Regions from separate parts of the Homo sapiens genome. Here all the other regions are linked to region 1. The links come from fine-mapping of genetic effects on gene expression. A gene starts in region 1. Each other region holds a variant in brackets. All regions are shown on one strand. Distances are from middle to middle.

Region 1 (7,688 bases):
TAGAAAGAGGTCCCTATTGACTTTGCTTTGCTTTGAGACACACTGTGGAAGTATAGGATTTTTTATGCTTAAAACAAATAAGAAAGAGCTGAATTCAGGGATATTGGCATATAGAGAAAATATTTGAAGCTGATCTATGCACATCTATTTTTGAGATTCACATACAAGTCTTGTTCTTGATTTCGCTTTTACCCATCCACAGAATGGTAACCTGGGCCTGACATATTGAAGTGAAGTATCAGTTTTTGCTCTATTTTCATCTTGATGCTAGCTGCTTCCTGACTGTTCCCAGCGAGCCCAGACACCACAGGGCCATAAGCTTAAAAAGATCATGTTACTTCAGTCACTGCTGAGTAGCAGACGAAGCTGAAGCCAGCTGAATCTAGAAGTGCTATGACGCTGAAAAAGTCAGGAGTCTTTACCCAGATCTGCCTCCTGCAAGCAGTGTTTTCTGCCTGCCCTATGGGACTTGTGAGGGACAGAAAAGTTTCCCAGCCCCTGTCAAGATGGTAACATTATCTAAAGTTATCACAAAGCTTCTAGTCAACCTTAATTTCTACCACCTGAAATTCAGAACCTAAGGCTATTTTACAATCTTTACAAAATTTAAATTATTTTTCTCTTAAAAGCTGGGCAGGTTGGTGGGTTTTCTTGGTTTATTCTTCAGGTTTTTTGTTTTGGTTTGGTTTTTGGTTTTAGTCCTTGAGCTTTGTAAATAAGTTTTCCTGCGCCTGCTTGCCTGTAACTTATTTTTCTGGTCTAATGACTGTTTTTTAATGAGTTCAGCCTGTGCTTTCTTGTACAAAAAGAAACGTGGGCATGTGAGGAGCATATTAATTAGCTATCAGATGTAGCCTGGTTTTTGAAGTCCAGATCTTCAGGATGTTACCGAAGTGTAAATATAAGCATGACTTTTGCACGTGATTAGTAATTACATCACAGTTAAAGCCTCAGGGGACCTTCCACCCCAGAATTCTGCTATCCTCAACCCCTGAATGGCTCTGTCATTAATGGTCAGTCTCCAAGAACTCATTTCCCAAGGAAATGACTTCCTGTTTTGTTCTAAGTGGCCTTCCCTGCAAACCCTCCTCACCTTTGAACTTCCTATTTTGGGATGGAAAGATTGACCCTTCTCCCGCTCCTCTTCACAAGGTAAGGAGAAACAAGGGAGAAGAAAGAAAGGTCCTCTGGAGAGAGATATATGTATCATACATATCTTATACATATATCATATATATCTTATATATCTCATATATATCTTATATATATCTTATATATCATATATATATATATATATATATATATATATATAAAACTACACCCGCATTGCACCAAAGTATACGAAATATTTTCTGGCCTTCAAATCATATGCCTAACTCCTGCAGGAAAACTGCATGGGCACTCAGGCTGATCTCCCTTACCCCACAACTTAGATCCACCTCTCACGTTTTCTAAGTTTATTTCCACGCTGTCCCTGGGCCAGGCTCTAGGGTCCCAGAGGTGAAGTGGAGGAATTCACAGTTTGGTTGAGGAGAGACCCCCTTGAATAGATCAAGCTCCCCAAGTGTTGCTGTAAGTTTACATGGAACATGGAGTCTGAGTGGGAAGTCAGGGAGGTGAATCACGGAAGCCTTTGGACTTTGTACACCTGTGGGCAGCTCCCAGATGAAGGGGGGAAGGTGTTGCAGGCAAATGACCACCTTTGACGGGCGGACATCGGCCTGCTTTGCCACTTCACCTTATGCTGCCCTGTGACTGGTCTTTGCACTGTGTCACCGATATGTCTTTTTTTTTTTTTTTTGAGACGGAATCTCACTCTGTCACCCAGGCTGGAGTGTAGTGGCACCATCTCGGCTCACTGCAACCTCCACCTCCGGGGTTCAAGCTATTCTCCTGCCTCAGCCTCTTGAGTAGCTGGGACTACGGGTGCGCGCCACCACACCCGGCTAATTTTTGTATTTTTAGTAGAGACGAGGTTTTGCCATGTTGGTCAGGCTGGTCTCGAACTCCTGCCCTCAAGTGATCTGCCCGCCTTGGCTTCCCAAAGTGTTGGGATTACAGGCATGAGACACCGAGCCCGGCCAACCACTAATATGTATCGTGAGTCAGCTCTGCTGTCTCTGAAAGTCCAACCTCCTACTTTTTGTTTTTTGTTGTTAAGACAGGGTCTTTTTTTTGTTTTTTAAAGACAGGCTGGAGTGCAGTGGCGCGATCTGGGCTCACTGCAACCTCCGCCTCCCGGGTTCAAGCGATCCTCCCACCTCAGCTCCAGAGTAGCTGGAAATACAGGCACGCGCCACTATGCCTGGCTAGTTTTTGTTTTTTACGTAGAGATGGAGTCTTACTATGGTGCCCAGACTGGTCTTGAACTCCTGGGCTCAAGCGATCCTCCCAAAGCCCTGAGATTACAGGCGTGAGCCAGCGCGCCGGACACAACCTCCTACTTTCATGAAAGAGTGGGCACTTCCAACAGGAGGAGTAAGTGGATGAGCGGTGTGTGACACACCCGCCTCAGCGTCGCCCGGAGTCCGCAAGGCTGCGGCTCACCGTTCTCTGCCCCATAGCTGGCATTGTGGAGTGAAAGGGAACGTGGGTGGAGGATTGAGGTTGGAAATTCTGAATCTGTACATACAGCTTGAAGGGGCTCATCGAATGTGTCGGTCCTTTAGATTCCCCCTGCCCATGGAGGTTAAAAAAAAAAAAAAAACCTATCAAAAGAGCTATTCAAAACCAGGCTGAAGATTGGAAGGAAGTTGGCCAGCCTCGGCTGCAGGACAGGTGCTTCCAGGCTCCATTAGGGGTGTCCAGCGCCTTCTTTTGCCCTAGGCAGCGCCCTGAAGAACGCGTCGGGGCCTCGGTTCGCGGACTTGAGGAGTGGACCGACCGAGCGCTGTGCGTAAAAGGACCGCTGGGGCACACGCCCGAGCGCCACCGGAGCTAGGAGACCGCGGCCCGGAGGTCGGCGAGTCGGGGGCAGGCCCGGAGCTCCTCCCACGGGGGGCGGGGCGGGTCACATGGCGGTGGCGCGGTAGCGCGCGATGCAGCACAGGCTAGAGGCTGCGCAAGCGCGGGGCCCGCCCCTGGGACCCTCCGGGCCGGGCGGTTTGGCCCCTTAGCGCCCGGGCGTCGGGGCGGTAAAAGGCCGGCAGAAGGGAGGCACTTGAGGTAGGTGCTGCGCGCCGGGGCTCCGCGAGGCACGTGATGTCCGTAGGCGGGGCCTGCCGCGGCGTAGGTGGGGAAACTGAGGCAGTGCAGGGCCGGTAGGGTGGGTGCTGGGCTGGTGAGGCGCGCCCCTCGGGCCCGCGCCAACTTTCTTAGGAGCCGCCGCAGCGCTGGCGCTCCCTCCGAGGACGACGACCCTTCCGCCACCCTGCGTGGCGGCCGATGGAAAAACCCTGCGCCCAGACGTCGGAGAACGGAGACGGGGACCCGGCGCTGCTGCGGCGGGCTAGGGCCCCCTCTGTCCACGCCCGCAAGCCTTGAGTGACGCCGGTGGCGCCAACCTTCGCGAATTGTTGGGACAAAGAACAGAGGAGAGGGCCCTGCCCTGGAGCATGGGCCCGGGGGCCGCCCTGCTGGACCAGCCCCAGGTGCGGACCTGGCAGTCCTCGTCCTCGTCTCTGTGCCCGCTTAGGGTCGTGTCTTTTAAGAGGGCACGGTTTCTAGCGTTGTTCAGCGTTTCGGAGGCACCTGTTCCCCCTCTTTCCCAAGAGTCACAAACGCCTGACTTTAAATTGGGTAGAGCCCAGTTGTAAACTTAACAGCCCTGCTGAGGTCTAGGAATGAAAAGATGAACAATCTGCCCCCAGGGTTGTTGCTGGAGCGGGAGGTGAAGGCGCAGGTGGAGATGGTTAGAGGCAAAGGAAGGGAAGTCAAGGCCCAGCCGGTCCAGGGCTGTGGGAAGGAGGCACACCCGGGAGTCCACTGCCGGACCGGGGTTCCCAGCTGCTCCTGCGCCTCTTTTCCTTGCCACATCATGCTGTCTGCACAGCCCAGCAACCCAGAACTCAGCTTTTTTGTTTGTTTTATTTTAATGTATTTTCCTTTGAACCTGGCAGGTGGTTTTTCAAAAAGAAAATAATCAAGATTTGTTTTGAAAAGCATTGTGAAAAAGTCAGCTTGAATAGTCTTGAATGCTCCTGCTCGGGCCCAGCTTTGGAGAATGAGGATTGGGATTTCCACTGCAGACCCCGACTCGTTACCATACTCATTCATCAGAAAACTCTTCATTTTGTGTACAAATAACGTTTTGAGGGTAATCATTGCTCTAGAAATGAAGAATTATACATCGTATTTATTGCACTTTTTGTAAGGTACCTCACAAGGCACCTCCTATACATTTAATCCTTTGATTCTTGCAACTCTGTAGAAGGTAATTAAGGAAGCATTCCCATTTTACTGATGCAAAACAGTTCCTTGTCCAGGTTTATACAGCTTGCAAGAATTAAAGTTAGATATTATTCTTGGTGTGGGCCTTTCCTATATCCCCGTCTTTTATAAGAGCATGTCATTTAGTTGAGACCTTCTGCATTACTTCTGAAGGGGTACAAAAGACATTTCTGATGATTTTCTCATCTCGTGTCATTTAAATGGTGCTCAGAAAGTTTGGATAGGACTGGAACTCTAGGGCTCAAGCCCCAGGCTCTGTCCCTATCTAAGCAATAGGGCAGCTGTCCTGCCAGTTGGGTTCTTGCTTCTTTGTGAAATGTTGAGCAGAAGCTCCAAGTCTCTCTGCTGTGGCTTGTGTGGCAAGAACCATCCTGAGGTTCTGTGCAGAGAGCCAGCCTCACCTTTGAGCTCAGTGGCCTCTGGCACAGGGAAATTACAGCTGGGCAGTGTCCTTTGCCTTCTCTGGCACTGCTAGTGCAGGAGGCAGTGTTAGCTGCTACAGGAATAGCATGGAGCGGGCCTGCAGGCCAGAGGGGCTGAGACAAGCCAGTGTTCCCACCAGACCTAGAACGTTCACCAGAAAGCAGGCCTGCAGTGACACAGCTGCAGAAGTTCACTATTTTGTGCCTGTCCTGCTTCAGATATCCTGTCTTTATAGGGGCACGAGTGAATCTGAGCCCTGCAAAAGAGAGAAAGATAATGCTGCTTTGCCGTTTTCTAGTGCGTTACCGCATTAAAAATTGCTCTTCTTATATAATCTTTATGACAACTCTTTAAAGTGCCCTTGTTTTTAAGAAGACACTGAGGTTCAGAGGGATAAAATAACTCTCAGAGTCAAAGAGAGAAAACCCAGGATTATTGGCTTTTAGCCCAGTGTCTTCTGTGGTATTGCCTTGCCTTCCTATCCACACCCATATAACTTGATGAAGCCGGAGTTCTGAGCCCAGACAGGAGGCTGTGCAAGTGAGATTAGAATGGCTTGCTCTTTGAGGGGTGGGGGGCCCTACAGCTTGAGGAAACAAGAGGACATAATCAGCTACTGGGAAACCCTGAGATACGCCCAAGAGTGAGGAATGTGGGGGCTGGTGCTGCTTTCAGCATCTATTCAGAGGTTTCTGAATCTGGCATTTGAGAGTAGGACTGGGCCAGAACCAGGCAGATACACACCCCAAGGAGCAGGGCTGAGAGTTGGAGACTGAGGCAGGTAGGTGAGAGCTCATTGCAAGTGACTGATTTTGTGGTATATGAAGACAAGGGTGGGTGGAAGGGCATCTGTTGCTCATAAGGCTCTGTGTGCCTGCATCATCAGTATGCTAGACAAGGATGGACAGAGTCTTGTTATTGTGGGGAAGAGAGGTGCAGAATGGCTTCTCAGCGGAGACTAGGCAATGAGACCCTTAAGACATTTGGCTTCAGATTATAAGCTGCTTACCAAGGATTGGGCTTGGGAGAGGCTGATGATGTTCTCTCCAGGCAGCAGATTTCCCAGGCCCTGTTTACGGGCAGTCTTGCTCTTAGCTTGCCTGAGGCCAGTGAACAGGCTTCAAGACCTGCAGGGCCCCACTTCCTGAGCCCAGACTGCCATGCTATTCCAGCCTTAGAGGCCACTGGCCCTTGGCTGGCTGCCCAGGACCTAGCGTGTCTGATGCAGGATAAACAGTCATGGACTGGAAGTTGGGAGACCCAAACCTGAGTCCCAGTGCAGCCACTGACAACCTGCCCTGCCCATGTGACCTTGGACTAGCCAGCTCCTTCTCTGAGCTTTAGTTTCTTCATTTGCTCAGTAAAATGAGCTGAACCAGCGCTTTGAGGGAAGGAGAGGGAAACAGAGGAGACCAGAGAAGGAAGATGAAGCATCCTTTCAAGACTTGTTCACTGAGGGCCTGAGGCAAGGAGGCCCATGTGCACTCTTAGTTTTTTGTCTCCCTCAGCACCTTTTCTTGCTTCTCCCCTATCTCTGCCTCAGGCCAGCTCATTCTGAAGAGGGACGATTCCCTGGGTGGGGCTGGGCTGGGCAGGTGTACCCTTGATGTTTAGAATATGATGCTGTCTCTACTTGTTTCAGACATGATTTAACTCAGCCAGTGCTGATACTTTGTTTCATTAAGACTTTATCAGTTCCTGCCCAGAGGCAGCTCCTGGAACAGTCAGGAGTTAGGCCCAGCAAAGGAGGCAGGGTGAATGTGCACACCCAGCAGAAGAACAGTGGTGGCAGGGGTTCCCATGGCTTTCTAGACATCAGATCCCTGTAGTTGCAGTCACATGGTACTTTAGAGTCTTTGGATGTCAGAGCTAAGACAACCTCATAGAATTTTGAGTTCCTTCCTCTGTATAGATGATGAGATCCAGGCCCCGAGTGTCTTCATACCTTAAGTCAGATTGCCCTGCTAGTGAGCAGTAGAGCGAGGACCCAGCCTAAGGTTACCTAAGTCCCAAGCTAGAGTGTTTTCTTTAATATCAAGCCAGCCCTGTCCAAAATTGCCTTTCATACTGAACTGAAATTGGAATTGAGTAGTTATAAGTTCCAAGTCTGCCTCACTGTGGAATTCTAAGAGTAAAATTCAGATAATTTAATTAACATTTAATGCCTGATAATTACCAGGATCTGTGTTGAGTGCTGGGGATGCAGGAATGAAGACGACAACACATTGTGCCAACATATTGTGGAGACAGACATGTAAATAACTAAAATTTACACAATTCATTTGTGCATTGTGCAGGGTTATGGGTGTGTGCGCACACACATGCACGCTATAGAAGAGGTCAGTGAGCAGTCAGTTGTCAGGGCTTTCAGGAAAGGCTTTGGAGAGGAAGTGTTATGTGTGCTGGGCCTTATGAATAAGTAGGCATTTACGTGGTTGGCCTGGGTCAGAGGGGGGCATCCCGGGCAAAGGAAACAACATGAGCAACACTTGCTGAAGCCAAGCTGTGGAGGGCCCCATCAGCTGGCTTGCTGAGGAGTTTATTGTTAGTGAGAGTCTGAACACAAGGGAAAGGTGTAATCAGGTGGGGGTGTGCTGGGATCGCTCTGACTACGGCTTGGAAAATAAACTATAGAGGACCAGACTAGAACCAAGCCAGATTCATTCTGTGGTTCTTGAAATAGGCTAGGGACAGAGTTATAGGATCCTGGGTTTGGGCAGCAGCAGTGAGGTCGAGAAGAGGATGGGTAGCAGATACATTTTAGAAGATGGACAGAACTTCCTGAGTCGATGTAGGCAGTGAAGGCAAATGAACAGTAAAATGTGAACCCCTGTCCCCCACTGTCCCCCCTCCCTGCCCCCCCATCTACTGAGCCA
Region 2 (6,344 bases), 160 kb before region 1:
ACCTGCGGTAAAATATGTATAACGTGATAATTACCATCTTAACCTTGTTGAAATGTACAGTTCAGTTGTGTGAAATATATTCACATCATTGTTCAATTATTGTTTTCTAGATGTCTTATCTCAAGTCTGTCTTACAGTCACAAAATGTCAATGACAGAACACGGATTTACAGGGGAAAGCCTGCAGGTCCAATAGCCGTAGCCAGGAAGGTATGCTATCTGTCAGAGTCCCCATAGTGTGGAAATGAGTTTGCCCTTTTAAGGGAAAGAACAGCTTCTGGCCCTCAGGTTTCTCCCCGTCTCCTCTCTACACCCTAACCAAGGGCTCAGGTCCACTTATATGCACACGAATAGAAGGATTTTATCCTTTGCAGGAATTAAAATGGACCCAAAATACCTCTTTACATTATGGAGATCTACAGAAGCTAAAGTGCAAGCCAAAGTCCAAAAGGTGATGATGAAGGTCAACAGTCATTGCGAAATCTCTGGGCAAAGAAAGACTGCCGAGGAAGAGTAAGATGTTCACTGACACAAACACTGTTGTATGAACCATGTGCCAACCAAAGTAGACAACTGCAATGTCCCCGAGAATATTTTCCACAATATTTGTGGCAAATTCAGTGGGTGCAAAACTGAGCTTGTCCTTCCTGCTTGATTAATCTTCGTGTTTCCTTTCCCTTCCTACATTCTTGATTGTAATGTTTTAGGGGCAAGCGGAGGTCCAGGTACTGGCATTGTTAAATTCAATGCTTGGGTCACCTCGGGATTCATTTTCACAGTCTTTTAGCTTTTGGTCATATGACATTGTATTTTTCCTGCCACATGACTAGTCTTTTTGGCTAAATGTAAGACACTCGTTAAAAATATTTAGCAATGAATTGAGGCCGACTAGCATGTTATCTTGCTGCAGAAAAGATGGGAGTCTATTTCTGGGGAATGGGCAGGGGTCCTAGCACACCTAGACACCCTCCATACCATCCGCAATTGAGGTTATCAGTGAGGTTCAGTCCCTACAAAAGTCAGGGTGTTTCCTGTCCACCTCTATTCCTGGCGTGTGACTCTTCTGGGTCCCAACCAAAGCCAGTGGACTTCAGTAGGGGTCACCGTCACTAGCAGACCCTCAGTCTACTTGTTTTCCATCTAGTCCTCCACATGGTGCAAAAGCTGCTCTGCTTCTTTACATCTCAGTTAGTCCCTTCTGAAATTCAGTGATGAAACTGAGGGAAATGAGCCCCAAATGTGAGGCTGACCTTCGTCCTGGGTTCCTTCTTCTCCATCTTGGCCTCATGTCTCTTTATTGCCATTTTAGCAATTTGGTGCTTTCAGTCATGGGTTTTAGATTCTGCCCCATGTCCCCATTGCTCTCATGGGAGATCAGAAGCTTCACATGCACTCATGTCTACTCCAGAGCAGAATGCTTCCTTAGCTTCCCTCCAGGCTCAGGTTTTGTGTTTCTAGTTCCCAAGTTCACAGCAGGAGTAGTGATGTCCTCACTGGCTTCTCATTTGCGTTAAACTGTGAACTCCTTTAGGGTGGGGACAGGACCCTGCTCCCATTGCATCCTCTGCACCTCACAAGACACTCCTTGCTTCAGGCCACTCCAGACACCGTGTGCTGAAGGGTGCCCTGGGTGGTCAGAAACAAGTGCATGAACTTTCTCTTTGAAGTGTTTTTGTCCCTGTTTCCTAGAGTTCTTGGCATTTTACACGTCTTTCTTTCTTTCTTTTTTTTTCATATTAAACTTGTAGTTTTATTCAGGTTTGATTTTAACAAATGTGTCGGGGAGAGAGCCCTCAGGGAAGGGTAAAGCCCATGGGGGCAGGGCCTTCCCAGATGCCTGAGGAGGGGGCAGGTCCCCTCCCCTCTCCTCCTCTTCCCTCCCCATCTAAAGGGGTTTGGGGAGAGACACAGGCAGGCGAGGGGGCTGGTCCCCAGTCTGTTGGGTGGTGCTCAGGGTAAAGGGCTATGGGCAACAGGGGACCAGACCAAGGATGAGTGGGGAGGGCACAAGGACCATTTGCCAGAATCCACTGCTTTCTGATTCCAGATTGAATTAAAAAAAAAAAAAAAAAAAAACTAAACCACAAGCAGCACCCACCCCCTTCTCCCCCACCAGGGCTGTAGTGTGAGGGGAGAAGAGGAGGGCAGCTTCACCAAGGCCACGGCTTTGCTCGCTCCTGGCCAAGGGAGCTAGGTGAAGGGCAGGGGCTCCCTGACAGATTGAGGGGGTGGGGAAAACCAAAATAAAACGTCAAATAAATTGTGTAGGAGGAGTCCAGCCTAGGACCAGGCCAGAGCCAGGCCAGGCTGGGGGAGGGGGCCTCTGCAGGTTCGGAGGATCACTGCTGCCACCACTGCCACCTTGGGAGCCAGTTATTTTGCCATGGCCTTGATTGCAACAGCTGCCTCCTCTGTCATGGCAGACAGCACCGTGATCAGGATCTCTTCTCCACAGTCGTACTTCTGCTCAGTCTCCTTGCCAAGGTCTCCCTCAGGGAGACGAAGGTCCTCTGGTACCTCCCCGCTGTCCTGGAGCAGTGATAGGTACCCATCCTGGATGCCAATCAGCTGGAAGTCATTCCTTCTGATGTTGGGGACATCCATATTATGAGTTGACGGGCAGATATCTTCATATTTCTTCCCAGTAAAGATGTCAATACCAACCAGATGGACCTTGGCGTGGCCGTGCTTGCCAGTCTTCGAAGCAGACATCTCCACGATCTTACATGGCCAGCCTTTGAGCACCACAAAGCCATTCTTACGTAATGCTGAGCACTGCATTGGGAAGGTGGCTGAGGCCCCTGCATCTCCTGTCTCGAAGTCCAAATCATCTGCCATTTTAAGAGGCTTCGATTCCAACTGGCGCAAACGGCACTGACTCGACCCCGTCCGCTCGCCGCGAGCCCAACCGCTGCCTCCGAGCCCGCCGCCGCCGCCGCCGCCGCCTCTACCCAGGCATTTTACACGTCTTTCATATGAAATCAAGTATCAAGTGAGATTTTTAGAATCAGAACCATGAATCAAGTAGTGTGAGGCAACACAGCAAACCCACCTTTTTAGGCCATTTCCTTTTTTCTGCCCTCAGTCTCTGTGAAACAAACCTTGTTAAAGTCTCTGGACACCAGAGGATGGTTTGCAGTTGTCACCTATTTTCAGGACATAACACCCTAACTAAAGAGCCATTGGATCATTTCCAATTCAGTAGATGCACCCAGCACTCAGATTGGCCTTTTCTCTCAACCAGGATCTTTAAAGTCGATGAGAAGAGTTCCAGTCCTGAATCATGGACATGTGCAGTAGTGAACCGCAGGGCTAATGACAGCATGTCCTGGAAGGATCTCTCTGAGGCTGATTGTCTGGGTTCTGGCATCAGCCTCTGATGGAGAATCAGGTCTCCCTGTGGGAGGAGTCAGACGAGGAGTGATCCGCTGCTCCGTCCTTATGGGTTTAGTTGTGATGAGCTGGTGAGGTCTGGTTTTCCACACTGAACTAAAATGAGCTTTCGCTATGTCAGGCAAAAGACTGATCCCAGAAGCACGCATAGCGCATCTCATAGAAGCTTTTAATAGTTCATATTTACTAAAGAGTAGGAATACAGAGCGATGAAGATGAGCTGGAAACGACAGGTGACTTGCCAGCAGGCCAGAATGTGCTTTTTCTTTGTCCCATGGAAGGTGTTAATTCTCTCTCCAGTTGTGAGGATCAGTTGGTTCATTTATGGGAAGGTTGTCAGGGGACCTTTGAATCACGGCCTTCAGATGCCACAAGGAATCCCACACAGGCCAGTGGATCACGTGCATGCATTTCTCTCCCTTCTCGACTCAGGAAGCTGAGAATGAAAGAACGTGAACGAGAAGAAAAGG[A/G]GAGGCGGCTGTCAGAGGTGGAAGAAACCATGAAATTGGCTCTAGAAAAAATACCCATCTGCAAGTGGGTTCAGAAACCGACACCAGCCTCTTGGGGAAGCGCTGGTGGAGTGTTTTGTTTTAAATCTTTGTACAATCTTTAGACCCAGTTAACACAGAAATGGAAACAAATGGTCAGAAGCGATACCTAGAGAGAGAGACAATTCACACAAGAGAACACACGTACCTTAAGATTTACTAGTGTTCAAAACATGTGAAGTAGCCAAACATCTCCTGACTGCAATGCCAGCCAGACTGTGTGGAAACTCGGTTCATACCAGCCGTTCTAGGGGTGATGCGAGTTGTCATCATCCTTAGGAAAGTGTGTTGTTGTAGGATCAACCCATCCTTCAAAAGGACTGTGCCTGTTTATAAGCTCAGCTGTTTCTGCCCTGTGAAATATGGCAAGGATATTAATTCCAGGAGAACAGAGCTTTATGATAAAAGATGCCCAATGAAGCATGAATTAGGGACATACTGAAAATGGGTAAGGAAATTGTCAACTCAGAACCCAGCAGGCATTAAGTAAAAGAGGAGGAAGCATTACAGCAACAGTTTTGATCATACTGTACTTTTATAGCCATGTGAAATACATTTTCTATGTATAGATAGATTGTGTAAGGGTACAATTGTGAGGACAACAGGAACATGGCAGATTATTTAAAATCATACTAAAGATGATGCTTTGTCTGATGAAAGTGATTCTAAACCATAGATAAACGATTCAAGACAGACAAGAGCTGCAGCAGTTGGTAGAGGACTCCTACAGATGAGAGGTAAGGAGCCTTCCTTCCTGCAGTTGCAGGATCCTTAAACGCTCATCAAGATGATGCCACTGCCCCTAGAATCTGTCAACATACATTTTCTCATGTGTTGGCTTTTTCAGATCGCCCCTTCTGCTGCAAGAAAGGCCTCAACAACTGGGTAAGTTTGTTCATTTTTCCCTTGCTTTTCGGCCAAGTCGGGACATGGATGTATTTTTCTCCCCACAGCTCTGTGCTCAAGCCTTGCAGAGGGAGATGGCAGAGAGGAAGGCTGCCGGCAAGCAGCACAGGTAGGTGATTGTGATGGACAAATTTTAAGGATGTTTTTGTTTTAAGATGAAGCTTTGACTGTCTAGTAAAGAAAACAGTGTTTTAATTCTTCTACAAGTCAACTCTTTCACTGTCTTCAAGACAGGAAATGATGGAAAAGCAGGGAGTGCTGGAGAGACACATGAGTCAGGAGGCAGCCCAGGGACAGCTAGGGCTAGAGAACCCTTTCTGGAGAGGTAGGAGCTCTCTGGGAAGGCACCCACTTAACTTCTGCTCCACAATCCACACCCCTGCTTCTCCTTTCTGGGGTGAGGGCTTGGGTTGGGTAATTGTTATGTTTCCTGGAAACAGTTCCAAGCACTTACTAAAGAGAACAGTTATCCCGCTGGGTGGCAGGACCGTTTTTCTCACGTGCCACAGCTGAATGACTCTTGGCTGGTCCCCTGTGAATAGCGGAGCACAGGCCCCTCCACTGACTGTGGACATCATTCCACCCTGATGTCTTGGTTACTTTTAACTGAGGGGATGAGCCTAGAAGGCAAATGGGTCAGCTCCCCTTCCAACCTTGAGTCAGTGGGAAGGCTTTATTTTTTTTATTATTATTTGAGAAAAGTAACACTAATAACATTTTAGAATGGGAGCCATAAGTGCTGATGAGAGCAGAAATTTTCTGGCTATGTCTTCATGGATCAATATTTCTTCTTTTCTTAAAGAATCAGAAGACATAGCCAGAAAACAGAGAAGACAAAGGTAAATGCTGGAGTCATTTTCCCTCTGCCTAGTTCAGGACAGTTTTGTCTTTTCCTACAGCGCCCTCTCCTGGCCTGTCCTCTGCTCTCTGGGTTCTGTGGTGCCTTTTCTAACTGGACTTTTTTGAAAGCAAAATCTTCCCCATGAGCTTTCAGGCTTCTCCATTTCCAGCTGGTCATCTTTGGTGGCACCTCCAGAAGCCATAAATGCTTAAGGGCCAAGGGCTGCAGGGCTGTCACTGTTCTGTTTCCAGAAATAACATGAGAGGATGCCATTGAACTCCACTGAGGTAGGTCTTATGGCCCAGTAGACCCTGACTGATCCCTTTTACTCAAGATGGTGTGGGATCCCCTTTCCAAAATATGTGGGGCTTCCTTTTTTTTTTTTTTTGCTGTGATTTTCTTTTCTGCTATGAGGTAAGTGATTAACCTTCAGAATATCCGCCGTAATCCCAGAAGTGAAAACTCATTGATCCAACATTAATATGTGCTTTGTGCAATTTTGAATGTTCTTTGGCAAAGTCAATTCCATAATTCATCACAGTCCCATCTCTGTTGTTAACTGTGTTGAGCAAAAACGCCCCCACCCTCACCCAGTGTTGCCCTTGATCTAATATTCTAAGTGTCAGAGGTTCCATATTTTAATAGAAAATGTGCCCT
Region 3 (7,688 bases), 26 kb after region 1:
ACAGGTGTGAGCCACAGCACGCAGCCTATTAGTATTTTTAATGTCTGTATTATGGTTTACTGAGCAAGTAAATATAATTTTCTGATCTGCTTGCCCATAATCTCTGCAGTGTGGTGGGCCTTTTTTTTTTTTTTAAGTCTTTATAAATAATGACACAGTGTATTTACAGATTTTCTTTTTAAGATGAGTTTCCAGATGTAATGAATCAAAGAACTCTAACAAGGATTCCTTGATGCTGATCTCAAACATGTTATTTTGTCTTTTTTTTACTACCTCCAACTTTAGATAACTTTGGGGTATCTTGTGTCTTAGTGCATTTTTTTTCACTGTATGAGAAGAAAGTGGCTTCCAGTTTCTTAGAAGACTAAAGAAAAATGAGGGTCTCTCTTTTAGATGGTCATTCAGTGCCTTCCAAAGTCTAACCTCTGAGCTCCACTTCCACACCTTTGGGCCTTTCTGTGTTAGCTTCATTTTTTTCTCTTCACCTGGTATGTTCTTTTACCTGCATCTCTACTTGTAGACATCCTGGTTACCCTCCGTGCCTCTGTGAGGCCTTCCCTGATTGCCCTTGTCATGCTTTATCACTTCTGACTTCCTGCTTCTAGAGCTGCTGGTACAGGCCAGATGGATGTGGCCTTCTCCGGTCTATCTTCCCTCAAAGACTGAACTCCTTGAGGGCAGGAGCCAGGCCATATTTGGATCTGTGTCCTTTGCTATTCAAGCAAAAGGCTTGACAGACAGCTGGTCCTCGATGCCTGTCTCATGAACGAACGATTTAGGATGAGGACTGACATTATCTCTTGTTTCCTTTTAGGGCATTCTTCTTGAGCACCGAGAAAAAGAATTTGGAGACAAAGTAAACCTACTTTCTGTTCTGGAAGCTGCTAAGATGATCAAACCACAGACTTTGGCCTCAGAGAAAAAATGATTGTGTGAAACTGCCCAGCTCAGGGATAACCAGGGACATTCACCTGTGTTCATGGGATGTATTGTTTCCACTCGTGTCCCTAAGGAGTGAGAAACCCATTTATACTCTACTCTCAGTATGGATTATTAATGTATTTTAATATTCTGTTTAGGCCCACTAAGGCAAAATAGCCCCAAAACAAGACTGACAAAAATCTGAAAAACTAATGAGGATTATTAAGCTAAAACCTGGGAAATAGGAGGCTTAAAATTGACTGCCAGGCTGGGTGCAGTGGCTCACACCTGTAATCCCAGCACTTTGGGAGGCCAAGGTGAGCAAGTCACTTGAGGTCGGGAGTTCGAGACCAGCCTGAGCAACATGGCGAAACCCCGTCTCTACTAAAAATACAAAAATCACCCGGGTGTGGTGGCAGGCACCTGTAGTCCCAGCTACCCGGGAGGCTGAGGCAGGAGAATCACTTGAACCTGGGAGGTGGAGGTTGCGGTGAGCTGAGATCACACCACTGTATTCCAGCCTGGGTGACTGAGACTCTAACTAAAAAAAAAAAAAAAAAAAAATTGATTGCTGTGCCTCATTACAAATGCATATGATGTTTGAGTGCTGTTGTTTGAAATTATTTTTCTTTTCGGGTCTTCAAAAATTCAAGAAAAGTTGATGATTGACTTGAAGATTACAAAATTTAAGGTTTTTTGGCATGTGTGTTTTCTATTAATAATTGGTTATATGATGTCAAAGTAATACTTTCATAATAGAATTGACATGCTCTGGGATAGTTTGACAAAGGTAAATTATAAAGTGAAATCTCTTGTTTCATTATCTTCCATTCTAACCTCAGAGATCTGTTTCTCTAGAAAAAATGTCCATCTCTGGCTTTAATAAAATTATGCATCAGAAATCACCTGTATGTATAAGATTTTCTGATAAAACTAATAATTATATTTACCATATAATTGGCTGAAAGTAAAAAAAGTCAGCATTCTCCATGGCTGAGGGGTAAAGTGCCTCGGGGGATTCCTCTGGTTCTAGCTATCTAAGTGGTTTGAAAATGACCAGGAAAAATTCATCCTGTCATTCACGTTAGTAATTTTGCTGTCTTTCCTAGAGGAATGACTTTGGTGTTTAAAATTGGTAGCTGTTTTTCTATTGGTCTTTTAGCCTAATTTGGCAAATCAGAAGAAAGGACATAGAGATGATGAAATATAACTTTATCTTTTTTGTTTGAATTTTGTCGTGTAAGTTTGAGTGACATCATCAAGACCTACCAGGGAGCTCGGCCACAGGGAGTCTACTCAAGGCATCAAACTGGCCCAGGAGTAGAAAGGTGGGGGTGGAAATAGGAAATAGTGTTTACCCAGGGGACTGGCCCAGCCAGGAGGAGAAAGGAATCAGTGTTTACCCAGGAAAGCAAGAATGGATACTGATGTTGGAGGTAAAGCTGGGAAAGTAGGAGAGCATCGGGATTGAGTATGCAGAGTGAGTTAGGGTTGAGTGGTTCGGGACTAAGACCCACTAAGACCATGCCTGCACCTGACTTCATGTAGCAGTGGTTGCATGGGGTATGCATGGGCCCTTAAAGGGCTGGGCTTCTGCAGCATTTGAGGCCATAGCCTTTGGTACTTGCACAGGGTTGGTACCTGTCATCCTTGGGACTCCAGCTACTGATAGGATAACTCAGTACCTAAACTTAGAACTTTAATACCTAAGACACTTGATGGTGAAACAGTTCTCTTGCAACTAAAGAAGAACCTGAGGTCAGGTGTGGTGGCTCACGCCTGTAATCCTAGCACTTTGGGAAGTCGAGGTAGAAGGATCACTTGAGGTCAGGAGTTCGAGACCAGCCTGGCCAGCATGGTGAAACCCCATCTCTACTAAAAATACAAAATATTAGACAGACGGGGTGGTACATGCCTGTAATCCCAGCTACTTGGGAGGCTGAGGCAGGAGAATCGCTTGAACCCAGGAGGCAGAGGTTGCAGTGAGCCGAGATCGTGCCACTGCACTCCAGCTTGGGCAACAAGAGCGAAACTCCATATCAAAAAAAAAAACCTGAGAGGACATTGCACCAATGGAGATGCATCAAGAGAAACATGTTTGGTTTTTTGTGAGCTCTCACCAACTTTTTTCCCCTGGGTCCTCACGTGCAGTGTG[G/A]TCTTCTCTTTCTGATTAGCATGTCATTTTGGAAAGAGCACTGGATTGAGTCATGAGGCATAATCAATTTCTAGTTTACCAGTGTGATCTTAAGCAAAGATCTAACTCATTGGCAAAATGGGCGTGATTCCTTCCCATTCAGGGCTGTTTATGATAAGTCACTGAGGGAATGATAAATATTATGACACTGCTTCTCAGACTGTAATGTACATGCACATCACATAAGGACCTTATTAAAATGGAGACTTAAAAAGCTGGACGCTAAAGGCAATAATGACAGATTTTACTCAATAACTACTGCAGAAGGAGAGAGTCCTCAGTATAGAACTGAGCTTAGCTCCAATCTGTGCAGAGGTGATGGAATTTTAAAGAGGGGAGGGAGGAGGTTCAAATAGAACTAGGGAAGTGCAAAATTACAAAAAGCTGGTAAGGAGATTGGTCAATGTGATTCGGCTATCTGTGTCTACTAACTCTCAAATTTATTTATCAAAGTTAGGATCCTAGCCTCCCACAGAGACCAGGAGTCGGCCTTATCATTCCTGATAATTATATGACAAAGGGATGGCTCCCAGAAAAAGTGAGAAACACATTCCTGTGCAGCAGAAGATACATATATCCCCCAAAGGGACAGAAAGGATTTACAATTGTAAATTTTATAAAGTATGTCCTCTAAGAAGAGGGAGGGACTGGGTGCCATGGCTCATGCCTATAATCCCAGCACTTTGGGTGGCCAAGGTGGGTGCATCACCTGAGGTCAGGAGTTCAAGAGCAGCCTGGCCAACATGGTGAAACCCTGTCTCTACTAAAAATACAAAAGTTAGCCTGTTGTGGTGGCGCGCACCTGTAATCCCAGCTACTCGGGTGGCTGAGGCAGGAGAATCGCTTGAACCCAGGAGGCGGAGGGTGCAGTGAGCCGGGATCACGCCACTGCACTTCAGCCTGGGTGACAGAGTGTGACTCCATCTCAAGAAAAACGAGGGAGATTAGAAACCTATGATCAGGCATTGGCTGAAACAAATGGTAAATTCTTTTGGCAGCCTTGAGCTTCCCCAGGCAGGGACCCAAAGGGGCCTGGGTTATCCCTGAGACAGGGCCTTGAGCTGCTAGAAACTATGCTAGTGTTTGTTCAAGTCTCTCCGTGTCCGGGGTGAGCAAAATTGTTTGTGCTGAAAATCAATGATTTGCAGCTCTCAAGATTCCAGTGGGCAGTCTGGGTGGGCCTGAGTTTCTGCTTTTTTTTTTTCTTTATGTACAGGGTCTTGCTCTGTCACCTAGGCTAGAGTGTAATTAGTGGCCCCAGTCATGGCTCACTGCAGCTGCAAACTGGCTGCAAGCTGTTCTGGCTCAGCCTACCAAGTTACTGGGCTTACAGGTGGATGCCACCGTACCCAACAGATTTTATTTTTGTAGGGATGGGGGTCTCCCTGTATTGCCCAGGCTGGTCTCAAACTCCTGGCCTCCCAAAGTGTTTAGATTACAGGTGTAAGCCACCACACGTGGCCAGCCTCTGCATTTCTAACAGGTTCCAGGTGATCTTGATGTTCTGCTGGTCCATGGGTCACACTTTGAGAAGCATGGTTCTAAAGGACTATACAGATTAAAGTCATTAATCTCTGTGGGCTTTGGACTTGAAGTTTCAGCAGCCTTTGACAAGCATTTGCAGGTTTCCTTTTTATTTATTTGATAAACTGAGAATCCACATGCAAAGAAATGCAAGAAAATTCAAAGAACGTAAGAAAATGTCCTTGCTGTAAAGCTGGTGGTTCTCAATCTCGGATACACAGTAGAATCACCTGGTGCGGGGGTTGGGGGCGGGGTGCAGTGTAAAAATTATTAAATCAGAATCTCTGGGGTAGGCCCCAAGCAACTTTTTTTTTTTTTTTTTTAGATAGAATCTTGCTTGTCACCTAGGCTAGAGTGCAGTAATGCAATCATGGCTCACTGCTGCCTTAACTTCTGGGCTCAAGTGATATCCTCCCACCTCAGCCTCCCTAGTAGCTGGGACTACAGGCGTGGACTACCACACCCAACAAATTTTTAAATTTTTTGTAGAGGCAAGCTCTTATACTATCTTGCACAGGCTGGTCTCGAACTCCTGGGCTCAAGCAGTCATCCTGCCTCAGCCTTCCAAAGCTCAGGGATTACAGACATGAGCCACAGCACCAGGCCAACAATATTTCTTAAAGCTCCTGGAGTGATTCCAATATGCAGCCAAGGTTGAAAACCACCCTTTAAAAGGCTCGGCATCCAGTGTGGAAGACCAGCACACTCACGTCAGGAGACCTTACCTGGAGCCAGGATGCCCCTGATCATCTCTGATAACTTTAAAAGGAAGGCCTCAGAAGCAGCCCCAGAAGCAAAAGTTTCTCTCTGACCTTCTCCTGCCCTCTTGTTTCTGGCTTTTCATTCTCCCCCAAGGCTACCCATAGAAACTAGAATCCCTCTTCCCCAAGGCAGGTCATCAGAAACCAGAACCGGTTTTACCCAAAGCCAGCCATAAAACCTAAAAATAGTCCTCTCACTCCCCATTCCCCTTTCTGTGTAAAAACTGGTTGGAAAGAAATGATCTGACCTACCGTGTTTGACTGTCGTAAGATACCCATTCCAGAGAGGGTCCCACCCCGTGCCCAGAAGGAAGGAATCCTGCACAGAGAGGCCAAGAAGAATCTAGACAGCCTTGCTGGGTTTCCCCTCTCAGTCTATTACTATTAGATCATACCCTTCTTGTCCAATCATATTTCTACACAGTCCATAATCTGTTGAACCTAAACATAAAAATGGACAATTCCCCTGTATCTTGGGGTCTTCATTCTGAGGGCTCACATACAATTATGATCAAATAAATTTGTTTGCTTTTTCTCCTGTTAATTTGCCTCTTGTCAGTGATTTTTTCAGCAAGTCTGCAGCGGGTGAAGGGCGAGTTTTTCCTTGGCCCTAGCAGTGGCAAGGGTCACAGATGGTGTGGACAGGGGTGCATGGGGAACCCCCAGCTGGAGGAACTTCCAAGGCAGAGATTTGGATAGCGAAGCATGGCTAGGGGAAAACGGAGGAGTCTAGTCTGTTTTGTTTACCTGGTTCTATGTCCTCTCTCCCAGTATGCAGATTTCTCAAAAGCAATGCCTGTGTCTGCTTCCTCTCTTTCCCAGAGCAAAGCATACCATTGCAGTGTAGGGGAGTGGAGGGCAGGGAAGGTGAGCTGTGGGGAAGAGGCTGTAGGGGCTGTGAGGATAGAGGGTGGATGCAGTCAGGGCAGACTGCAGTTTCTTCCCAGCACTAGCTGCCCTCCCTCCATTCTGGGTTGCCAGTGCCCCATGGGGCAAGCAAGAAGGTGTGTATTTGTCAGTTTATGTTTGGGAGGGGAAGGGAAAGAAAGTTGATTTGTTCTCATTTAACCCTTCAAATCCTTTCTACATTTAAAGGAGGATTTGTCATTTTGTTTTGAAGACAGTAACAATTGAGGATGATAGTGGGTTAGATCCCTGGATTAGGGAGGTGTGGGGAGGTCCTTTCAAGGACATGCTTCTTCCAGCTGTACCTGGTCACCTTTCTGTATTATATAATGATGGTCAAGGTCAACCCACACACTAGTTATTGCAGTAGGGGATAGGAGGCAATTCTAAATTTTACTGGGAGCGATGGGAATTCGTTTAGAGGGTTTTTAGAAGAGTGACATGATCTGATTTCTATTATTCTGGCTGCTTTGAGAGAATAGATTTTAGAGGATCAAAGGTGGCAGCAGGGAGCCCATTTGGGAGGCTGGTGCAATGATCCAGGCAAGAGAGAATGGTGGTGGCAACCAGGTGGGAGCACAGAAGATAGTGAGAAGCGTCATGATGGATATATTTGAAGGCAGAGCTAAGAGGATTCTTTAACTGTTGGATGTAGGATGTGACAGAAAGAGGAGCTAAGAGGATTCTTGAACTATTTGGATATAGGATGTAAGAAAAAGAGCAGTCAGGGTTACCTTCATGATTTTTCTCCTGGACAACTAACTGCTCATGAATTTTTGATCATTTTACAGCAGAAAATGATGGGGTAGTAGAAGGTTTTACTGTGCTATAATAGTTACAATGAATGAATGAGAGGTATAAGTATCAACTTGGATGCACCGAAACAAGGAAGGAAAAAAGCTTCAGAATGTACATTCAGTAGGATACAGTTTACATAAATGTGTAAGGCTTGCAAACAGTATTGTGTAAGCTCCATATATAGATGGTAAAAGTGTAAAGACAAATACAGAATAATTACAGTCAGGGTTGAGCCCCATCTGCGAGCCTCACACTAAACAAAACAAAACGAAAAGAAAAAACATGCCATTGCTCAGTCCAGATCCTAGTCCAGTTAAACCAGAATCTCTGGGGCTGGATCGATCCAGGCATCAGTATGTTTTAGAGCTCCCTAGGGGATTCTAGTATGTAGGCAAGGTGGAAGACCACTGCCTTACCTTGACAAACAATTGTGAAATCTTTTAAGAAGCAGAGGAATTTTCCCCTTTCGTGCCAAGTAGTCGTCCATGTCTGTTCTGAAGTTAGTTAAGAGACACCCATGCCCTAATTTCCATGGTGTTCAGCCAGGAAACATGAATAAAGTCTCTCAAGAGACAGCTGAGCCC
Region 4 (7,688 bases), 34 kb after region 1:
GCACCTGTAGTCCCAGCTACTCAGGAGGCTGAGGTAGGAGAATCGCTTGAATCCAGGAGGTGGAGGTTGCAGTGAGCCGAGATCATGCTACTGCACTCCAGCCTGGCCAACAGAGCGAGACTCTGTCTCACAACAAAAACAAACACACAAAAGAAACAAACGTTGGAAAGGATGTGGAGAAAAGGGAACCCTTACACACTGTTGGCAGGAATGTAAATTAGTACAGCCATTATGGAAGACAGTATAGAGTTCCTTAATATAGAGTTCTTATATGATCCAGCAATCCCACTACTGGGTATTTACCCAAAGGAAATGAAACCAGTATGTTGAAGAGATACCTGCATGCTCACGTTCTTTGCAGCACATTATTCACAATAGCCAAGATAAGTATACATCAATGGATGAATGGATAAAGAAAATGTGGCATATGTACACAAAGGAGTACTTTTCAGCTTTTAAAAAGAAGGAAATCTAACACTGGGTGTGTTAGTGCACATGTAGTTCCAGCTACCCAGGAGGCTGAGATGGGAGGATTGCTGGAGCCCAAGAGTTTGAGACCAGCTTGGGCAACATAGCCACACCCCATCTTTAAAAAATAATAAAATAAGGAAATTCTGTCATTTGTGACAACATGGGTGAACCTGGAGGCCATACGTTAAGTGAGATCATGCAGTATCTGTCTTTCTGTGCCTGGCTTCACTTATTTGTGGAATTTTTTTTTTTTTTTTTTCAAAAATTGAACCCATAGGCCAGGCGCGGTGGCCCATGCCTGTAATCCCAGCACTTTGGGAGGCTGAGGCGGGTGGATCACCTGAGGTCAAGAGTTCGAGACCAGCCTGGCCAACATGGTGAAACCCATCTCTTTTGTATTTTTGTACTAAAAATAGAAAAATTAGCCAGGCTTGGTGGCGGGCACCTGTAATCCCAGCTGCTTGGGAGGCTGAGGTGGGAGAATTGCTTGAACCTGGGAGGTGGAAGTTGCAGTGAGCCAAGACCACACCATTACACTCCAGCCTGGGCGACAGAGTGAGGCTCCATCTCAAAAAAAAAAAAAAAAAAAAAAAAAGGAACCCATAAAAGCAGAGAGTAGAATGCTAGTGGATGGTGAAATTCTGCACATTAGATGGGCTGGGGGTGCCATTGGATATCACCCCTGGAAATGAGATGCACCACTGGGCTAGCAGCCTAAAGCTATACACCAGGCTGACTAGGGAGCCTGCCAGGAGGTGTAACTGACTCTGGGTTCATGTTCTTTATGAGCTCTTTGGTACCTACCTAGGAGTCAGTGCTCATAAAAGAATGATAAGAAATCTGTCCCTGACCATGGCAGATGTTGCCTCCTTCACAGCCACTGTTTTGGCAGCCCTGCAGACATCCTTCATTTCTCTTGGGAAGATTGTTTTACATACCAATATTGCTCTAGACTTTCTTTTAGCCCAAGTGGGAGGAGTGTGTGCAATTGTTAACACCTCCTGCTGTACCTGGATAAGCACATCAGATTTCATAGAAACACAAGTAGGCTGGGCGCGGTGGCTCACACCTGTAATCCTAGCACTTTGGGAGGCCAAGGTGGACGGATCACCTTTGGTCAGGAGTTAGAGACCAACCTGGCCAACATGGTGAAACCCCATCTCTACTAAAAATACAAAAATTAGCCAGGCATGGTGGTAGGTGCCTGTAATCCCAGTTACTCAGGAGGCTGAGGTGGGAGAATTGCTTGAACCGCGGGCGGTGGAGGTTGCAGTGAGCAGTGAGCCAAGATTGTGCCATTGCACTCCAGCCTGGGCGACAAGAGCAAAACTCCATCTCAAAAACAAAAAAAAAAAAAAAGGAAAGAAAAGACACACAAGTAGAAGAAATTCAGGAGCAGACCCTCACAAGCAGAAAAAATTCAGGAGCAGGCCCACTGGCTGCAGACAGTGGGGCCACCTGAAGGATCCTTCTTAGACTTCCATAGCGACTTCTTAACTGGATCGCTGTGTCCAAGGCTAGGTCATGCTCCAGGCAGCCCTGGTTATTCTGCAGTTGTAGGGGTCCTCCTGGGCCTCGTGAAATGGATTCTGGCTATGGCTTAATGATGTCTCACTGGGATTGTGTCAGTTAAAGTGTTCTCGAACTAATGAGACAGACCAAACCCCTGCCTCCAAATCCAGGGAGGTTGGTGGGATATGAAATTGACCAGCTTCGCTAAGGGGGATATCTGGGTTTCGGATGGACTACAGAGCAGTTCTCCAGATGGCCTTGGACTGACCCAGTTCTCCCAGCTTTCTCACTGTAGTTCTCAAGAATAACTGTAGAATGTGCTGGGAATGCAATAGCCTGAGGTCAGGAGGAACTGGCCAGAACAGCCTGGGCTTGTTCCTGTCCCTGCTATGAAAGAATGCCCTTCAGGCCCGGAGAGGCGGCTCACGCCTATAATCCCAGCACTTTGGGAGGCCAAGGGGCAGATCACCCGAGGTCAAGAGTTCAAGACCAGTTGGCCAACATGGTGAAACCCTATCTCTACTAAAAATACAAAAATTAGCCAAGCGTGGTGGCGCACACCTGTAATCCCAGCTACTTGGGAGGCTGAGGCAGGAGAATCACTTTAACCCGGGAGGCGGAGGCTGCAGTGAACTAAGATTGTGCCACTGTGCTCCAGCCTGGGTGACAGAGCAAGACTCCTCAAAAAACAAAAGAAAACAAAACAAAAGATGATGACGAAGAAGAAAGAATGGATTTGGGGAAAAAAACAAAAACCAGCAGTGTCTGCCATAATATATTTATGAGAAAATACATGAAAACTTGTAACAGTATTTGCTCTAGGAACAGGATACTGGTGATTGGGGACATAAAGGAGAATGTCCCTTTTAATACCCTTTTGAACTTTTATAATCTGTTCCATATGAGTATATTAACTAATCACACACTTTTAACAGAGTAATAAAAATGCACCATACTGCGTGCTTGGTAAACCTCTCTAGCTAGTTCACTGACAAGAAGTTTTGTGCCCTCACCCTTAGCCCCTCAGAGAGGGCTATTTGTGTTGTGAAACTCAGGCCACATAGAACTGTAAGAAATCCATTTGATTCAAGGAGCATAGGAAATCTCATGGGCCTGTATGGGCAGGAGCCTGGAAAGGGACACAAATCCAGCTAAGTGTCCTGGGGGGTGCCAATCTTCCTGAGCCAGTGGACCCAGCTGTTATTGGCCCTCCCTTGTGCCCTTCATGACTGTGCTAGGCTTCCTCAGGGGGAGAGAAGGCCAGTTCTGCTGCTAAGCTCTCACCCCAGCACTGCTTATACACAGAGGCAGGAGGAGGCCAGATGCCTCTGGCCAGGAGGGGCTAGGGTGTGGAGCCTGGGGGCCAAAGCACAGCCAGCTCCTGGGAAAGCGGGTGCTGCTTGAAGCAGGAAGTCTTTAAAGTCTCTGCCATGCAGAGCTCTGGGCTGCCCTTATCGGACTCTCATCTTTCCCCAGCCTTCATGACTCAAGAGAGCCAAATTTATGAACCTCGTCATTCTTCAGTTGATGATAATTTTTAGAAAGTAGATTTTCCTTGAGCATTTAAACATTAAATGTAATCAGTTACACTCTTCCCAACTGTAATGACTCAGTCTCATAAATGTTTAAAACGCCTTTAAAAATTGACAAATAATAATATAATCATTACAAAACTGGATCTGTATATGCATACTAAAACCAGTTACAAATGCTAATATGTGGTTCTAAATTTGCTTCTTTATTATTTGCAGTTAGCAGCCTTAGCAGCAGGTGGCAAGACATTATGTGCCCAGATGTTGCTGTCCCATCCTGGGGACCTCAGAGTTGGCCATGCCACACCTTCCATTGGAGGCACCCAGACTCTCCACGGTCTGCACCACAAACCCCGGTCCTGGGCACATCGACTGGACCGGGGTGGACCCTGGACCCTAACTCAGGCCTCTGTGAACTAGCCAGGGACCTGTAAAACCTGTACAAAGTTTTTCCCCAGAAGGGGCGCAGATGGTGACAGCTGACCGGCAGAAGGCAGGGAGGAGCCCTGAGGGGAAGCTGGCCAGAAGTTGCTGGCACTGTGGAGATAAATGAGATACCAATGTCTCAGTGAGAATAGAGAGTGGGTGACGTGGAGGCAGTACTAGATCCTGACCTCTGCTGGCCAGTTCTCCTAAGGGCCTGGCTGCAAGGTTGTGCTGGGTGGCTTTCTACTTCCTGTGCTCAGACAGGCAAAGGAAAATAACTCAAAAGCTGTTCTAAGCCAAAGTGATGGCATGT[G/A]CCAAGTGCACAGGAAATAGAAGCTGGTCCAGAAATGTGTATGCAAGAAGTGAGGGGAGCAGGACTGAGTGGAGGGCGACATGGAGCTGTGAGGCCTCAACTGATCCCACAGGAGCTCTGAGTTGAGATCACCCAGCAGATGCCCCGAAATGAGACAAGGGGCTTTGTAACTCCCACCCATCACTCGTTTAGTGGACATAGGCTGCACCCTGCACCAGGGATGGGGGTGGGGCAGAGCCCTGGTGGGGGGCAGCTTCCTTCTGCCAGGGGCAATTCCAAGTGAGTGATCTAATCTAACACAGTGGGTCCTGAAGTGTGGTCTAGGTGGTCACAAACCAGAGGTGACAGGCTAGGTCACTGTGTGTGAGGCAGGCCTGTGGTCAGAATATGGTTGGAGCAGCCCACTCAGAGGCCAGGCCTGGTTAATCCCTGTAGAACAATGGAAGGAGCTGTGTTCATGAAATGAACCTCTAAGGGTTTGCAGGAGGAGGACTGATGGGATCAGATTTTCTTTCTAGTGTGAGGGAGGGGGAACCGGAGCTCAGGAGAGGGATCTGGCCACAAAGATGGGTGGGGGCGGTGCACAGAGGATTCTAAAGACACAGAGTGGCACAGAGGGCAGAGAGCCTGTGGAGATGAGAGGGGGAAGAAAATGGTGTTAGATGTTCCCAGCATCTGGGAAAAGTAGCATTTGTAGGAAATGGGGAGCAGGATCTGCAAAGAGACTGAGGAGGAGCTGCGTGCAGGACACGTGGTCCCGAGTGGGTAGAGGAAGAGAGCCAAGGGCTCCAGGAAAGAGAGAATCAGCAGTGCCAGACAAGGACTGAAAAGCCCTCCCTTCCTCCCCCAACACACAGAAAGACAGACTGACACACACGCACACACACACACACACCCGTGGTTTAATAAACTTGGAGTTTCCTCAGACTGCCTCTAGGTGGCAGTGTATGCACGCGGCATCAACTGCTGCGCAGCTCTCCCCGGGGACTACCAGATTCTCCATGGAACCAACTAAAACTCCCCAAAGCTGTGTGACAGGGACAGGGAGAGGTACCTGTGATGTTTGCAACATCCATCTGTTTTCTGCTCTGTCTCAGATGAGTCTAGGTGTGCCTCTCTCCCCTACTTTGTAGTGGTAGGGGGAACTTTCAGTGGCTCTCCTAGCAGTGTCTGCGCCTAGAGGTCCCAGGGCCTTAGCCGACCCTCAAATCTCTAGGTGTGAGATTGAGACAGACTGGGGACTCAGGTGTGGTCATAAAGCTGACAGTCCTGCTTCTACCACTTATCAGCTAGGTGATTCCCTCTGAGCCCCCTTTCCACATTTATGTTACTAAGTCAGAGCTTTGTGAAGGTCAGTTTGCATGACATTATTCCAGAAGTAACACTCTGTGCTGTCAAGTGGCTTTGACATCTGCACAGATCCCATAGTTCCCTGGGTAGACATGAGCAGCTCTCCGGCCTGAGTGGACCTAGCTTTCAGGGGCAGAGTTGGGACTTAGCCCGTGCAGTCCGATTCCTGGTATTATACTTGCTCTTAACATCTAGGATCTGCTCCCTCCCTTGATGTCTTATTTGGCCACATCTGGGGTTTTCTTCTTTGGCAAAACTTTCTTCTCCCATGTGGAGTCATTACAGTGTGGTTGATGCACAGGGCTGAAAGGGCCGTGGGATGTCACCTGTTGAACAACCTTTCTTTCTCTGCCACCTTCAGTTTATGAAATGGAACAACTGAGGGCAGAGAGATGACAGGACTCCTTGTCACCACCATCTGCTTAGACAGTCTCAGATGCTATAATTAAAGGGTGTTCCACTGTGTCTTATCCTCACACATGGGCTCCTATCACAAATCTTAGTCCTAATTCTTTGCAGGGGACGCCACTGGCAGGCAGAGGTCCCATGGCTGAGGCTGTAGATGCAAATAAGAGTAGAAACCTCCTAGAAGTTTGCAGATTCCTTAAAATAGATTGTTCTGGAACAAATAGGCCAAGTATAGAATGACAGGCCAAGAAATAAATTTCCTTTCTGTTCTCTTTTCCCCAAGGCTCCCTAACCTCTTTCTTCAAGAAAGGCAACACCAGTGCAAAACTGACCTTGAAGTAAAAGTTCTACCAAAGATGTTGGCGCCTAACCCATTGCCATTGCCTGCACTCCAAGTCCTGCCATATACTGATGGAGTGACCCATCTTCCCACTAGCCTCTTGGTCCTGACCTCCTCACCCTCAGGGCCATTTGTTTCTCCGTTTCTTCCATCTCAATCACCTGGTCCCATGGATACACACCTCTGTCTGACCACAGCCTTGTGTCACCGTATCTCCCTTCTTCACATGCTGAGGGCCCTCCAGCCGCAGCCTCATCTTCTTTCCCCCTATCTACTAGCCCCTCCAGCTGTCACTTCTCTCCCCTAGTAGCCAAGCCTCAGGATACAACACCTCAACTGCTTTATTTCCAACCTTCTGGAATCCTTTGCACCATTGTTTTTCTATCATGCTCTCCCGGCAAACCCCAGATTTTGATCAATCCTGCTGTCTGTGCTCTCTGCACTTGCACATACTCCAGCTGCTGAGTACTGATGAAAAAGGTCATGTAATCTGAGATGTGTGTCACTCTCACTCTGGGTCTCCATTTGCAGCTGGGCTTGCAACCCTTCCCCAAACATTCCTGCTTGCCCCTGCTCAGAGGTGTCTCTCGTTCTCTCCTAGGTTTCTCTGAAATCCTTGGATCCCACCCAACACCCACTTAACCTTCAGCAGGTGCCCATTCTACTTCCAGAGAAAGTGGACCCCTTCCCTTAGGAAGCCCCACCGAACCCACAAACATCTGCATCCTCACCCAGCTTGTCTTCCTGCCTCCTGTCTCTATGAAGGTCCTGCTGTCCTCCAGTTTGGGGCTCTCCTCTTGTTCTGAACACCAATCCTTCCCACCTTCTCCAGCAAGCGTTTTCTCTCTTCCTTCAGACTCTCTTATCTCCCCTCTTCTCTTGCCTTCTCCCTTCATCATTTAAACATATTTGAGTCTCTCCTTTGTTTTTCTTGTTATTTTCTTTTAATAGAAACAGGGTTTCACTATGTTGCCCAGGCTCACCTGGAACTCCTGGGCTGAAGCGATTCTCCCACCTGGGCCTCCCAAAGTGCTGGTATTACAAGCATGAGCCATCGTGCCTGGCCCAAGTCTCTCCTTTCTTAAACAAACACCCTCCTGCAACTGCTTATCCTCATCATCTTCCAGTTAACAACCTCTCTCTCATTTTCCAATTGCTGTTCAGCCCACTGTTAACTGTCTTTGACCCAATTCTCCACTGAAACAGTTCTCTGAAGCTATTAACCCCATGGTTGCTCTTCAGCCTTGTTTCACTGGCCCTCTGCAGCCCTGGAAACTGGACCACTCCCCTCTTCTTGAAACACTTGTTGCCCCTGGACTTCCATCCATTCCACCCT

What was found.
Region 2: its variant is fine-mapped to the expression of PRXL2A in whole blood (INTERVAL, PIP above 0.99).
Region 3: its variant is fine-mapped to the expression of PRXL2A in whole blood (TOPMed, PIP 0.96).
Region 4: its variant is fine-mapped to the expression of PRXL2A in whole blood (INTERVAL, PIP above 0.99).

Annotation. Positions count from the first base shown.
Region 1 is chr10:80,405,479-80,413,166 of GRCh38, forward strand. PRXL2A (peroxiredoxin like 2A) reads left to right here and starts at 3,073. Exons shown (of 6, transcript NM_032333.5): 1 at 3,073-3,165. RefSeq lists a silencer at 2,852-3,141 and enhancers at 3,427-4,020, 4,867-5,366.
Region 2 is chr10:80,244,847-80,251,190 of GRCh38, forward strand. It overlaps LOC100130698 (a long non-coding RNA gene), which reads left to right and starts at 2,912. Exons shown (of 6, transcript NR_136612.1): 1 at 2,912-2,991; 2 at 3,825-3,926; 3 at 4,617-4,677; 4 at 4,788-4,825; 5 at 4,894-4,955. It also overlaps the pseudogene EIF5AP4. The variant A/G (reference allele first, on the strand shown) is at 3,863.
Region 3 is chr10:80,431,172-80,438,859 of GRCh38, forward strand. It overlaps PRXL2A (peroxiredoxin like 2A), which reads left to right. Exons shown (of 6, transcript NM_032333.5): 6 at 815-5,944. The coding sequence ends at 928. Among named protein-coding and RNA genes, the nearest start is that of TSPAN14, 19 kb to the right of the region's middle. The variant G/A (reference allele first, on the strand shown) is at 3,077.
Region 4 is chr10:80,439,673-80,447,360 of GRCh38, forward strand. No RefSeq gene overlaps it. Among named protein-coding and RNA genes, the nearest start is that of TSPAN14, 11 kb to the right of the region's middle. The variant G/A (reference allele first, on the strand shown) is at 4,255.